Linked DNA regions of Homo sapiens: all the other regions are linked to region 2. Evidence: fine-mapped expression QTL. A gene starts in region 2. Each other region holds a variant in brackets. All regions are shown on one strand. Distances are between the middles of the regions.

Region 1 (5,231 bases), 36 kb after region 2:
AAAATTCCTATTGCTAGTGATGTGGTCATTGTAAAGCTGTAGCACAACACATTACCCACGTTTGTGGTGACAGTCATATAAAAGTATGGTACATATAATTATGTACAGTGCATACATAATACTTGATAATATGTTACTGGTTTGTGTCTTTGCTATGCTTTTTATCATTATTTTAGGGTATACTACTTAAAATGTTAACTGTAAAACAGCTTCTGACAGGTCCTTCAGGAAGTACTCCAGAAGAAGGCATTGTTATCATAGAAGGTGACAGCTTCATGTGTGTTATTGCCCCTGAAGACCTTCCAGTGGTACAAGATGTGGAGGAGGAAGACAGTGATACTGAGGATTCTGACCCTGTGTAGGCTTAGGCTAATGTGTGTGTTTATATCTTAGTTTTTCACAAAAAGGTTTTTCCAATGTTAAAAAAAATATATAAAAAAGCTTATAGAATAAGGATATAAAGAAATATTTTGTACAGCTGTACAATAAGCTAAGCATTATTACCAAAGAGTCAAAAAGTTTTAAGAAATTAAAGTTTATAAACCAAATGTTCATTGTGAGCCAAGGTTAATTTATTGAAGAAATAAAACATTTTTAATGAAATTTTGTGTAGTCTTAGTGTCCAGTGTTTATAAAGTTTATACAGTAATACGTTTATACAGAACATCCTAGGCCTTCACATTCACTCACCACTCAGTGACTCACCCAGAGCAACTTCCAGTACTGCAAGCTCCATTCATGGTATGTGCCCTGCACAGATGTGCTATTTTTCACCTGTTATACTATATCTTAATTGTACCTTTTCTATGTTTAGATATGTTTAAATACATAAATACTTATCATTGTGTTACAATTGCCTACAGTAGTCAGCACACTAACATGCTGTACGGGTTTGTACCCTAGAAGCAATAGGCTCCACCATGTAGGCCCAGTAGTGATGTTTGCGTGACTAAATCACCTTACAACCCATTTCTCAGAACATGTTTCTATTGTTAAACAACACACAACTATTTTATTTATGTGTTTTATTTATGCCTGATCACCAATATCAATAACTGAAACACAGCAGTTTAGTAATAATTTAATACACACCATAACCTGCCTATTGAGAATGGCATTATATTTGTTTTCATTGTAGTGGCTCCATCCAAAATAAAATGATTTTTTTCCTTCCTTCAGGATGAAGGCAAGCATTTATTCCTACGGTCTGGATTCCTCATATCACCTACAAGTTAACTGCTTTTGTGTTCTAAAAGAGAGAGGAAAAATGAAGTCAACCTTATTGAAAAACAAGGAGGGAAACTAAGGAACATGCTTTTGCTTTTGAGGTTCTAGGCCAGAAGTCATAAGCTGTAACTTGTCCAAGTTATGGCCAAGCAGATATGTTTTGTTTGGCCCACATGGAGTATATTTTTTCTAATTGAATCAACATTTTAAAATATGATGATTTAATATTTAAAACTATAAAGCGCATCTCTAGTTTGTTTTGTGTGTGTTTTTTTAATTGGAAGATCTGGCTGGAGCCGTCTCACATTCCCACAGGACAACACTTAGCCGTTCAAGTACTAGCTCCTCCTTTTGGATAAGACTTGTTTTCCTATTCACCCCAGACCCAGCACCCCCTACTGGTTCCCTGACACAACTGCTTCAATCATTTACACATTGTTTGGTCCCTGTGGGCACCAGCATTGGCAAACTTTGGTTAGATCTTTGGGGAGAATTAAAGTCTATTATTATGTTAGTATATTATATAATAAATAAGAGATGGGAGCAGGATCAGCTATATAATTTTCAAAGGACAGTGCAAAATGAAAATGTGGGACCCTTAAAAAAGGTTTAAGAATTACAAGATGGCAACAGCGGAGCACTAAATCACGTACAGGTACATCTAAGCACGGGGCCCTATGCAAGCTGCACAGGTTGCACATACGTGAGGCTTGGTGCTTTAAGGGAAATGGGTGCCTTCCCACTCAACTGGGTGTTTAACCCTCCTCCCCACATTGAGAAAGAGGCAGAGTGCTGCAGATTCTGTGATGTGCCAGGACTTGACTCCTGCTCACATGTGGCGCCCTTGGGTTCCAGGACAATGGGTAGCTGTTTGGAAGCCTGCAAGGGTGGATGTTTTGGAAGCTAGGGCAAAGATCTCAGTGGCTACCCTTAGATGGAGTAAACCGTAGTCCTTTTCAGAGCCACTTGATTTCAAATGTGAGCAAAGGCAGTGATGAGCACCACGTTTTGAAAACAAGGGCTTTCTCCATTTTGAGATGAGTTATATGATTTGCTGGGTTAAGTGTTGAAGAGCCATGAAAAATGATCACCATCTTTATTCTTATAGATGGCTCCTTGAGCAGGCTTTAATTTGACTGGAGTTGCGGGGAGTAAATATTACACTCCCATATAAGGTGTATAATAGTGACTATTTTTTAGTTATGATTTTTGGCTTTTAAAAATGGGCTTTGACCTTCAAGCCTCTTCTTTCCATACTCTACTGGGCTTCTGTCAACATTCACGCTTCTCTAATGCAATAGGATTTTAATATTCACAAATGCTAATGTTTTTAAACTTAACAGTCCTTTAATGTCCTGGGTTTTTATGCATTCTATTCTTGCCAAGCAAGAATTTATGAGCCCTTTTTGGTTTTGCCTTTAATGTGGTTGAATTTAAACTATAACTTTAACTCATTGCAAATTTTATTTATTTATTCATCTATTTTAATAACATTTTTTGGAACAGTTTTAGGTTTACAGAAAAATTGAGAGAAAAAGTTCAGATAGTTCCCATGTACCCACTTCATCTGCCCACACATGATATCCTTTATCTTATATATCCTACATCTTACATTAGTGTGGGACTTTTTGTTACAATTGATAAGCCAAGATTGATGTTTCTTGACTAAAATCCATATTTCATGCCTCTCTTCATCTCTCTTCAATTCTGTTCTCTCCTGTAACTATTAGTCTATTAGTCCTATATTATACCTACTTATGGGCCTATTCTCCATATTGTCTAATCTTTTCATCCCCCTTCACCAGCTTCTCTTCATCTCTATGTGTGTCATTCTGTGTCATTCACTCGGGTTATTGTTTAGTTAACTCATACCCTC[T/A]TCAACTGTGTCTAATCTACTGCCTAGATAGTCCATTGAGTTTTACATTTCAAAGATTATATTTAATTATTTCTAGTTCTTTTTGGTTCATTTTCAAATCAGAGGCAGATTATTTAAAGGTTCTAATAATTATTTCTTTCTATATACCTTTTCCCAGATATTTCAATAAATTATATTTACACAAACCTTTCATACACTTGTATATTATAGAAATGATCTATGTTCTTTAGCTATTCCAAGGATAATTGAAAAGAATGTCCTCACCACCACCAAATCTAAACCATGCAAGAAGAAAGTGAACTATTTCTCAATAACCAGATTGTTTACATGCCATTTTTATTATTTATTCATTTACATGACAAATATTTTTTGAGCACCCACTATATGTCAGTCACATGCAACAGGACAAGGACTCTGCCTTCATAGAGCTTTCCTTCTAGTAACATTATTAAAGATTTTGTTTGTATTGGCACTTGCCTAGGATCTTTAGTGCTCTTTAAATTTTACTCATCAATCAGGGCTCAGCTCAAATGTTAACTCTTTTGAGAAGCTTTCCTAAAAGCTCATTTCATAATTAACTTCTTACATTCCTGTTTTTCCATAGCACTTTCCCAGTACTATATATACATAGCATTTTGTTTATACTTACATAACCACACAAACCAAGAAATCTCTTGGTAGCTATTAATTGCATACATATATATCTATCCATCACCACCATCATATTAAACTTTGACTAACTGAGGGACAAAGCTGTTTTTCCAATATTTTTATATCCCCAGCATCTTGGACGTTGTTGTTTTTTTAACAACTACTTTCTATTCTGGTTTATAAATGCATTGTAGCTGGGAGAGTTCATGAGTATTATGTAATTCATTATTTTATAAGCAAATGACAAAATCCCTAACCAAATTATATTACTATTCAATTCTTGAAGGAATCTTGAAATTGATAAAGTTAAATGACTGAAGTTAAAAAAAAGATGCTTAGAAGCCACTAAACACATGCATAATACTATTCTTTATATCTCACAAAATATCCAAATTTCCAGATGTTAGTATTCCAAGATATACCTTGTGACTAAACATGATAGGTCTTGTCTTTCTTTTTTCACACCAAGCCTTTTGAAAGCCTTTTTATTTTGAAATAACTTCAGATCTACAAATAAGTTATAATAGCACTAAGAATTCCTGAATATACTTTACCCAGAGTGACCATTCTCTCTCTCTCTCTCATATACAGACATACAGTACATATGAATAATCTCATATAAATATACAAACTTTTGAGAGTAAGTTAAATATATTTTACTCTTCACTCTTAAATATTTCAATGTATATTTCTTTAGAACCAGGAAAGTCTCATATAATCTCAGAAAAATTATAAAATCAGGAAATCTAACAGTTATACAACATAATTATATAATCTGCAAAACTTATCCAAATGTCATCATTTGTCCCAATGATATTCTTTGTAGGATAAACTGAATTGCATTTTGTTTCATATTTCTTTAATCTTGTTTAATAGTACATAATTGGTTATAAGCCTCTGCCTTTGATAACATTGACAGGCTTGAAGAATACAGGAAAATTTAATAGCCATCGATTTATATTTTTAATATTCATTTTTAACTAGGTTCAAACTATGCATTTGGAGCAAGAATATTATATAAGTGATGTGTTCTTGTCAAAGCATGACTTCAGTGGGTACAGGATTTCAGTTTGTCCCATTATTGGTTATGTTAACTTTGATCTCTTGGCTAATGTGGTGTCTGCTAGGTTTAATGGTAATTTTCCCTTTTGTAATTAATAAGAAATTTTAAGGATGCTCTACTTTGAGAATATGTAAATAACCTATTTTTATCCAACTTTTACCCACTAATTTCAGCATCTGTTGATTATTCCTCTCCAAATAAGTTATTACTATGATTGCAAAATAATGATTTGTTACCTCCATTATTCCTTCTACATTTATTAATTGGCATTCAACTTTAAAAGACAGCTTTGCTTTCACACACTCTCCCCACATATGAACTCATGGATTCTTGTTTGATTCAAAAGGTTATAATCCATTGCTATCATTATTTATTTTAATGTTCATATTATTCCAGATTTGACCAGTGGGAGTC
Region 2 (5,220 bases):
AACAGGTAGAGAAGTTATTTAAACTATTATTTTATGCAGAAGTAAAAATAAAATCGCCATCCATTTTATGGATGAGAAAACATCACAAGAGGTTAAGAGACTTGGTCAGGGTCACACAGAAGCAAAGCTAGAACCCAAGTCCTGTAATTAAATGGTGTTAGCTGATTTTTTTCTTTACCATCCTTTTCATCTCACCCTTTGAGATGCTGGCATATAAGACCCTTTACTTCGTAGAAATAAACTTTACAATAGTGATAGTGAGACAGATTGAGCTAGAAAATGTGAAATCAAACTAACCTGCAGGTAGAATCGCATATTTTATGACTAAGGCATCTGCTTAGAGTTTGAAATTTCTCAAATGCCCACTAAGTCAGGGAATGCAGCAGAAATACAAAGGACATGATTCTATTTTTAAAAATGTATAAAAAAAAATTACTCCCTAGCATCGGATCCTTGTGAACAGGACAGGCCTTTCCATTGCTTGTGCTTTTTAATTAAACTATACTTCAAATAGGCCTTCCTGTTTATCAAATATAAACTTTTAAAAATTAAGAGTCCCTTGGTTTAATTTTTGGTTTAATTTTACCTCTGAAAGGTTGCCAATATGCCTTACAAATCTAGGAAATAGAAAATCTAAAATCCCTCTTCCAACAGTGATCTTTTTCCTGGCTATGCTTGTATCCATTTGATTTAAACGAAAATTAAAGGAATTGGGAAAATGTTAGGAGTATATTTTAACATAGGATGAACAGATCAAGTCACAAAGCCAGAGCAAAGGAACATTATGAGACAAGAGCAAAAGTAAAATTAAATAAGAATTCTGGCAAGAATTTTAAAAACTGAAAACTTAGAAAAAAAATCAATCATTACAAATTGTTCTGCTGCTAATACACAATGACTCATGTAAGCATATGGTTTATTATTAACCCAGAAATGTAAAAAAGGCAAGAATTACAAGTGGTCAGAGAAAGTCTCTTCCTGGCTGTGTGATCTTATCAGGTCACTTCTGTTCACTTGAGATAGGACGGGGTAAGAAGAGGGGAGGAGTTTAATAATTTCGGACTCCTCCAGGTTCCATGATCGTATGGAACAGGGCAGTCTGTTCCCTAATGCTGGAGGAGTAGAGCTTGGAGAGATTTGCTGCTGAACTCGCTGCGCTAACCAGACACGTAATCACAGTGGCTTCAGAGGGACTCGCACAACAATTTCCATTAGCTACGGACAAGCATTCCAAACTTTAGCCTTTAGGTTTAATCATTGACACACCTTCCCTGGTCACTGAGTCTCCTCTAGAAACTCAGTATAAACATCCAACGATGTGTTAACAGGGTGTTTTGTAATTTTCTTTTGAAGATTATTCTAGGTGGTGGGCGTCACAGGGTCAATAAAACTATACATTTCTCTCAAAGACTGCAATCCTGATGGCAAAGCTGGAGGAAGCTCCGGGAAACCTGTAATTGTGGGAATCCAAGACAAAAAATCCCCCACAGCTGGGCTGTGGGAAGGGGCCCTACCTAGGAGAAGAAATCAAATCCCCTACAGCTGGGCTGTGCGAAGGGGCACTACCTAGGAGAAGAAATCCCCTACAGCTGGGCTGTGGGAAGGAGCCCTACCTAGGAGAAATCCCCTACAGCTGACAGGTGGGCTGTGGGAAGGGGCCCTACCTAGGAGAAGAAATCAAATCCCCTACAGCTGGGCTGTGCGAAGGGGCACTACCTAGGAGAAGAAATCCCCCACAGCTGGGCTGTGGGAAGGAGCCCTACCTAGGAGAAATCCCCTACAGCTGACAGGTGGGCTGTGGGAAGGGGCCCTACCTAGGAGAAGAAATCAAATCCCTACAGCTGGGCTGTGCGAAGGGGCCCTACCTAGGAGAAGAAATCCCCTACAGCTGGGCTGTGGGAAGGGGCCCTACCTAGGACAAATCCTCTACAGCTGAGAGCTGGGCTGTGGGAAGGGGCCCTGGACAGACCGCTGGGCGCTGCTGCAGGAATCCCCAAACCCAGGCACTGGCTGCAGGGAAAAATCAAGCGGGTGACTGGCGGGGGGGGGGGGGGGGGGTGCAGCGTGGGGCTGGGGGACAGGGAGTGCGGGGGGCGGAGGCTGGGCAGGGGTAGTGCCAACGGACACCTCATGGTGTGGTAGCCTAAACTCAGAGCCTAAACGCAGGACCAGGGCTAGGAGCCCAGGACCAGAAGGCAAAACTTCCTACCTGATTTATGGATGGGAACTTGCAGCCCCTGGAGGGGAATGGCTTCGGTCTGGAGCTCTACGCACTAGTTCTCTGGGAGGACAGAGGGCAGGAAAGGGGTGCAGCCAAAATCAAACTCGGTTCCACTTGGACGAGCAGTGGGGAGATTCGCTGTCTAAACAACTAAGGAGAGTTTTTAAAACCACTTACCAGAATCTAGAGTGGGAATTAAAATCTGCGTGGGCTTCTTCAGATTCCACAGAAATGAGGACTGCCACACCTTCTCCAACTTTTGCAGGCTCCACCCAGGATGTGCGCCTCGCTCCACCCAGGATGTGCGCCTCTCTCCACCCCTAGGCGAAGGCACTAGAATTTCCCAAATTAAGAACGAAGAGGAAGTTTGGACCTTTTCGGCCACCGCTCGCTTCAATATGGCTGCCCCCAGGGAGAGACGAGGCTACCATGAAGGAGCCGAGCGCAGACCCTGAGTCCGTCACCCATGGATCGCAGCGCGGAGTTCAGGAAATGGAAGGCGCAATGTTTGAGCAAAGCGGACCTCAGCCGGAAGGGCAGTGTTGACGAGGATGTGGTAGAGCTTGTGCAGTTTCTGAACATGCGAGATCAGTTTTTCACCACCAGCTCCTGCGCTGGCCGCATCCTACTCCTTGACCGGGTGAGGCCCCTTTGCGCCTGTCCATCGCCTGCCTTCTAGTGCGAAACTTCAGGAGCCCTGTTCCCATCCAGTGACGACCGGATCCAGCATGTCTGTGTTTGCTCCTCTGAGGGGTGGTCTCTGTTTCTTTATATGTGAAATTTAGGGGATTAGATCAGTGCTTCTAAAAGTTTAACGTGGCTATTAATCAGCTGAGCATCTTTTAAAATACAGATCCCGATTCTTTAAGTGTAGGGTAGGGCCTGATACTGTGCATTTCTAACAAGTGCCCAAATGATGTTGAAACTGCTGACCTGGGAACTATCTTGTGTGGCAAAGTTTAGAAAATTTGATTTTATTATATGAATACTAAGGGAATCTAAAGACTTTGTAGCTTGCTAAGGTATTGAATGCCGGAATCCGCTCATCAACAGCTCTGGCAAATCATTGTTACTGCATGCTTGAACATCACCAGTGTTAAGGAGTTTACTGCCTCCTAGTGAGCCCCTCCATTATTACAACTCTAGTAGTTTTACGCAGAGAAAAGTACGATCGTATATAATTTAGGATGGTTAGACTTTTTTTTTTAACTTTATGATGGGTTTACAGGGGTAGTAAATGCATTTTGACTTACATTTTCCACTTATGACGGATTTATTGGGATGTAACCCCATCATAAATCAAGAAGCAGCTGTACAAGCCATACCTCCTTATTTGCAGGTTCAGTTACCCCAGTCAACAGCAGTCTGAAAATATTAAATGAAAATTCCAGAAATAAACAATTAGTAAGTTTTAAATTGCATGCTGTTCTGAGTAGCGTGATAAAATCTTGAGCCAACCAGCTCCTTCCAGAATGGAAGGTGAATCATCCCTTTGTCCAGAATATTCCACTATATATTCTTGCTGCCCTTTAGCTGCTTGGTAGCCTTCTGGGTTATCAGATCGACTGTGGTGGTATCACAGTGCTTGTGTTCAAGTAACTCTTATTTTACTTAATAATGGCCCCAAAGTACGGGAGTAATGATGCTGGCGATTTGGATCTGCCAACAGTAAGTTTTAAAGTGCTTTTTTGAAGTGAAAAGGTGAAAGTTCTTAAGGAAAGACTTAAGGAAAGAAAAAACAGCATATGCTGAGGTTGCTAAGATCTACGGAAAGAATGAATCTTGTCAGTGAAATTGTGAAGTGAAGAAGGAAAAAGAAATTGATCTGAGGTTTCAGGCATCCACTAGGGGGTCTTGGGACATATCCCCTGAGGATAAGGCTGCTTGGGAGTGATACTGCTTAGATTAAAAACCACGGGCTATGTGACCTTAGGAAAGCTATCTCAACTCTGCCCCTTCCTGTTCTATGAACTGAGGATAATAAAAAGTATCTGCTTTATAGGGATTTTGTGTGGAGAAAATAGGATAATTTTTTTTGAAATATTTGGCTTTGTGCCTGGCCCATGCACTGTAAAAGTTGGCTGTGTACTGATTTTATTCGTAGTATTGGCTTAAGAGCATGGAAGACAGCACATTGTTAGGCTCATTCTTTAGGTCCATTATTGACTGATCATTTATTTGCTGATCTCTCAAGTTAGCAGGGCCTGTTCATTTTTAAATCACTTCCATCACCTTCAGAGCAATGGCATTCTTGCCCACAAACTCTCTCTTGCCCCATTTCCATAACTCTGTCTCGCCTTGATTTTTGCAATGGTTCTCTAACAAGCCACTTAACTATTCTTCTCCAAACCATGTTTGACAAATTGCAACTCTGCTTATCTCTCACCTATGCTATGTTTTATTACACATTTTTCTACATCAGAAAATCCAAATGCTTACTCTAGTATACCTTTCAACCTTTTTTTCATTGCTTTTCTTCATCTTTAGCTAGTTACTGAAACTAAACTGTTCTTTTCATCTTGTATTTACTTGCTTTTGCTCATGTTTTTTGGCGGTTTTTTTCCTGAAATGTTTTCCTATCTCTGCATATCTGAGACATGATTCCCAAAACTCCCCTCTCCCACCTGAACCCACAAACACATACTACCTACTTGGAAGTAATGACTGCTTCTGTACTGGTTAGACTTTTATTTCTTATCTTACACCTCGTATTATGGTTTATTTTAAAATCTGCCTTATTTCAGTAAGGATTTGGGGCAACTTACAAACAGGCAACACAAGAAAAAATAAAAAGTGGGAAAATCTGGATAAAGAAAATATAGATAAGATGAAGCCAGCGATGGCATTAGTTGCCAATCCCACCACTAGATCCTGTAAAGTTGCTAGAAGTGGGCCATACATTTGGCTCTAAGATTCAGAGTAGCCAGCACAATGTCAGATACGTAAGTCACCATCACCGAAGTCATACAATGAAGTCAAAATATTTATTTAGGACATGC
Region 3 (5,231 bases), 79 kb before region 2:
CTCTCTCGGGCTTCTACTAACAAATGTGTGCACGATGCCTGTCCAGGCTTACAAATCGTCAAGCAGGTCCAGTTGGGTTGAAACCTTTTTACACATCATCTTTTCCTATTTAGGAATAAATGTGGGTTCTTGCTTGGGATACCACTTGTAAGCAACTCCTTCCACAACTATCACCATATGACTAGCTTGGTAGGACAGCTGAATAATAACCGGCTCAGTTATTTCATTTTTAGACAATGCTGGAATTTTTTTAACTGAAACTTTACATTACTAAATTGTTTGATATCAAGAAATTGCTCTAAAGTAAATTATATACAGATTTGGTAAAATGGTCAATTCAAGCATTTCCACTGCATGCATATACATGTGACCATCTTTCTGACCATCAAGACTCCTTTCCAGGGAGATGGTCAAATGCTGCGTGGGCCAGTGTCAGCTACACTGTGGTCTGGCTGATCCTCTCTGTTCTGGTCCTTTTCACCTGTACTTGATATGCGCTTGTAGCCCATTTTCACATTTACCCAGTTACAAGAGCTCACTGACCAACACAAACTCAGGTTAGCAGAGCTTTTCTGAAATTCCACCCTTTTCCTCTGCGTTCAGTGCTACTTACTCCCTTCACTTTTCTTTTCTTTTTTTTTTTTCTTTCTTGCTCATGGCATAACCCTGGGCTGACTAAGGTCACCTTGCTCTGGGCTTGGTGATTGTGTTGCAGCTTGTATGTTACACTCTGCATCCAGTGTCAACACTAGACTTCCTGGTCGTGCTGCTTCAGGCCTGTGATCCTCCACTGCACCCTTTTCATCGATTCCGTTGGTCACAGCAAGCACCAGGGCATTGTGACCATATTACTCGCAGGCTATGTTGTCATGCCAAGACCCACAAGTCACTGGCCAGACCAGTCTAACACGTTTGTTTCTTTATGTGATGAACAAGACTATCTACCCATCCCCTGGTCACTAGGTGGGGGAAAAACCCACTTCCTGGCTCAATGCACTGGGGAAAACAGTCTCCGAGGAAACAGAGCAACCTTGTCTCCATGCTGGTTCCTGTTTCCCTCACTTCAGTGCACACACCACATCCTTCAGGGCCTGAAGTTTAGAGGAGCCAAAGCTGAGTCACCGGGGTGCTACCTTCCCAGCTGCGGCCTTTCAGCACTTAACCCTCTAACCCTGCCTCCCACCATGTAATATATAAATGTGGCTCTGTAGTAAAGTCAGTGATTCATAACAATCCCTTCTCCTGATCCCAAAGAGAGATAGTCTACCATATAAAAATCCCAGCTAAAAGGAAAGGCACTATAATAGTTTTTTTAAATCACAAAAGCTTATTGTTTAATGACTAATTTTAGGTTATTCTGTAAGGCATTAGGGACACAGAGATGGCACAGACACTGCACTCATGGAGCTCCCAATCTAGTGGGGAGATGCACACACTAGATACACACTGTGTGTGCACGTGTGTGTGTGTCTGTGTCTGGGTATGTATGTGAGAGAGAGAGAGAACGAGAGAGAGAGAGAGAGAGGAGAAAGAGAGAGAGAGGAGAAAGAGAGAGAGAGAGTTCTTCCCGTATCATAAGCTAATTAATTACCAAGTATCTCCATGTCAGGCACTGAATCCTGAGCTGGGGAAGGAGTGTAATATCCATATTCCATTTTGCAGATTACAAAGCACTCTCACATACATAGTCTCATCTAGTTGTTTTAGACCCATGTAATATGAACAATATCTAACTATTACAGCTCTTTTATCTTACTAAAGTGGAAAAGCTCCAAAACAAGATTATTGCTTAATGTGAGTCAGTTTTAGGAAAACCTAAGGCAATATTTCTTTATGGATCACATTGATAATGTTATTTCTTCTGGCCTGAAGCACCCTGTAACTCTACCCTCATCTCTCCCTGTACTACCCATCCCCACACTGTCTACATTACCTTTGGGGATGAAAAGAGATAGAGAAATGCCAACTCTAGCTTCAGTTCAATTCTGGCTCCACCATTACTGGCTCCATAACTGTGAACAAGTGACCCTCTGCCTCAATTTTTCTGCCTTTCAAAAACACTAGTATACGAACACAGTTCAGCCAATTCTTTGTCAATTTATTATAAGATTGCCTTTTCTCCCATTTCAAATAACATGTTCCTCATTTCCATTTGAAACCTCATTAAAATGACCTTTACCATCTGTATTTCCACCAATATTCTGTTTATTATTGTTTATGTAGTCTCTAAGAAGATGGAGGTTTTCTCTCGTTTCTGAGTCCTCACAAGAATCACCTTTAAAAATTGCCTCATGGCAATCTAGGCTTTTTCTAGCATGCACCTCAGAGCTCTTCCAGCCTCCACCTATTATTTAGTTCCAAAGCCACTTCCACATTTTTAGATATGTATATCCTACTGTTAGTACCAACAGTATATATGTATATCCTACTGTAGGATATGTGTATATATATATATGTATGTATATATGTATATCCTACAGTAGGATATGTATATCCTACTGTTTCTCTTAGTTTCTTTGGGGCTGCTCTAACAGAATACCATAGC[CT/C]AGGTAGCTTAAACAAACACTATTTTTGGAGGCTGGAAGTCTAAGATCAGGGTACCAACATGTTTAGGTTCTTGAAGAAGACCCTCTCCCTTGTTTACAGATGACAGTCTTCTCATCGTGTCCTCATATGGGAGAGAACAGAGAGAGAAGCAAGCTCTCTTGTGTCTCTTCTTATAAGGGCACCAATCCCTCATGATCTGATTACCTCCCAAAGGCCTCATCTCCAAATACTATCACATTGGGGATTAGGGTTTCAACATATGAATTTTGGGGAGACACAGACATGCAGTCCATAATAGAAGATATGATCATCCCCATTTTGTAGATGAGAAAAACAAGCCTTAGTTTAAATCACTTGCCAAAGACCATATAACCTAAGGCTTATTCCTGCTAATATGTAACGAATCATAGTGAAGAGCACTCATCAGGTCTTGCTAATGTGAGGGATACAGTATGCTAAGTATAATGATGGAAAAATGTGAATGGTGAAATATTCACAGAGAAATATAATCCACCCAATTCTCCACTACAGAGATAGAAACCTTTTAAATAAAAATTCTTACAGACTTATATTAACAAATACATAACTTTCCTTCATAATTTTAGCATAAAAGCAATGTGCTGAAGTCTTAAATTCAGCTAATCTCTTAAATATATATTCCTGCATCCTGCTTTGCACTAAAAATTTCCTCAAAAGCATACTTGTTTGAAGAGATATTAAAAATAATTTTGGTTCAACCAGGTTAGTTTTATTTAACCCAAATTGTGACTTATTCCATATAAATTAATAAAGTGTTCATTAGTTTCCCATTGCTGCTATAACAAATTACCACATACTAGTAGCTTAAAACAATACAAATCTATTCTCTTACAGCTCTGGAGGTCAGAAGACAGAAACGACTCAAATTAAGGTGGCATTCCTTCTGCAGGATCTAAAGGAGAATCCAGTTATTTTTCCCTTCAATATTCTGGAGGCTGCCTACATGCCTTGGGTCCTGGGCCCTTTCCATTGCCAAATGCAGCCATGGCTGGTCAACTATTTCTCACAATGATATCTCTCTGGTTCTGGCTCTTCTGCCTCCCTCTTCCCCATTTAGGGACCTTTGTGATTACATGGGGCCCACCCACATTAATCCAGAATAATTTCCTTATTTTAGGTCAGATGATTTACAATATTAATTCCATCTGCAACTTTTATTCCTCCTTTTCATGTAAAGTAACAGATCCACATGCTCTGAAGGCTAGAATATGGACATCTTTGAGGGCCATTCTTCTATGTTCTGCAAGGTCTCTCCCATAAGCCTGATGCCAGGAGCAGAAACATTGGACACTGAATGTGATGGTGATTGGACTGTGTCTTAGCCCATTTAATGCTGCTGTAACAGAATACCACAGAATGGGTAATTTATTAAAAAATAGAAATTTATTTCTCACAATACTGGAGGCTGAGAAGTTCAAGATCAAGATGCCATCATCTGGTGAGGGCCTTCTCCCTTCTCACTGCATCACTGAAAGCTTTCCCAGTTCCTTCACTTTTTTTCTGTATCATGACTAAAAATCAGAATGCCTTCACTGCTTTATGACCCAACCAGCTGTGGGTTTTGCCCAGCAGGCCTGAACCCAAACTGAGGACTTGAACATTCCCAGGCACTGAAAAAGTTATCTGGGTTTCCTAGAAAGAAACTGGCCCGGGCTGTGAACCAAATTTCCTAAAATTTCATATAATCTCCATATACCCAGGCCCCCTCACCATGGACAACCTAGATAGCACATCCCTTTTCTCTCACTGTTCATTGTGAGAATATGCTGCAGCACTCTCCATCTAGGTTGCCTTAATAAATGCTTTGGACTGATGACCTTGGCATTTAGTGTTTCTTTCTTTGGAATCCCAACTGGCCCCATCACAAGATATTTTGAGGCCCTCCCTTGTGGGAATTCCTCTACCATCACTTTTGAAACAACTCCATCACAAAATAGTCATCGCATGGCGGAAGGTGGAAGAGCAAGAAAGCACACCCATTCCCATGAGCCCTTGCCCTCGACTTGAGTTCCAAATCTAATTCTACCCCTTATAAGATACATGACCCTCAATAATTCAATCTTCTTTACCTAGCCATTATCCATCAAGTAAAATGCTAGGACTACTCCCTGAAGTGAACATCTCAGTTTACTGGTCTGGAAATATATTTGCTTAAAGCTTCATCATTTTTGGAATATAGAAATTCACATGTGAAAATACCCACATAGAATCTGGCAAACTCCCTCATTTTACATTCAGGAAGCTGAGGTTCTAAAAGTAGGGAGGGTTCATCAATAAATCAATAAAGAACATGCCAAAATGTCACAGGAGTTCCCATAAAATTGTACCTATCTCTTTCCTAGGGTCCTTGTCTCACCACCTTCCACCAGAATTTCTTTCACCCATGTTTAATCACTGTCTTCAGACTCATGTAAAATTCTCTTCTTGTACACCCTCCTATAAGGTGTTGTATGGAGCTATGCACACAGTAAACTGTCACAAACCCAGCCAGGATTTGTTGAGTAAGTGTACAAATCAGTTAATGGAAACAAAGCATATTGGTCCAATTCCTTGACATATATCCTTTTTTAAAATCCACATGTGAGGATAATCACCTTTCTTTTCTGCTTCTGGACAATAAATAGAAGTAGTCTATGGCAGAAGCA

What was found.
Region 1: its variant is fine-mapped to the expression of TYW3 in whole blood (TOPMed, PIP above 0.99).
Region 3: its variant is fine-mapped to the expression of TYW3 in whole blood (INTERVAL, PIP 0.91).

The regions. Positions count from the first base shown.
Region 1 is chr1:74,766,075-74,771,305 of GRCh38, forward strand. TYW3 (tRNA-yW synthesizing protein 3 homolog) reads left to right here. Exons shown (of 6, transcript NM_138467.3): 6 at 1-603. Among named protein-coding and RNA genes, the nearest start is that of TYW3, 36 kb to the left of the region's middle. The variant T/A (reference allele first, on the strand shown) is at 3,104.
Region 2 is chr1:74,730,558-74,735,777 of GRCh38, forward strand. TYW3 (tRNA-yW synthesizing protein 3 homolog) reads left to right here and starts at 2,595. Exons shown (of 6, transcript NM_138467.3): 1 at 2,595-2,861. The coding sequence starts at 2,688. It overlaps CRYZ (crystallin zeta), which reads right to left and starts at 2,493. Exons shown (of 9, transcript NM_001889.4): 1 at 2,399-2,493. RefSeq lists enhancers at 1,290-1,579, 2,175-2,885, 2,440-2,729, 3,110-3,209.
Region 3 is chr1:74,651,915-74,657,145 of GRCh38, forward strand. All of the region lies in intron 1 of ERICH3 (glutamate rich 3), which reads right to left. Among named protein-coding and RNA genes, the nearest start is that of ERICH3, 19 kb to the right of the region's middle. The variant CT/C (reference allele first, on the strand shown) is at 2,546.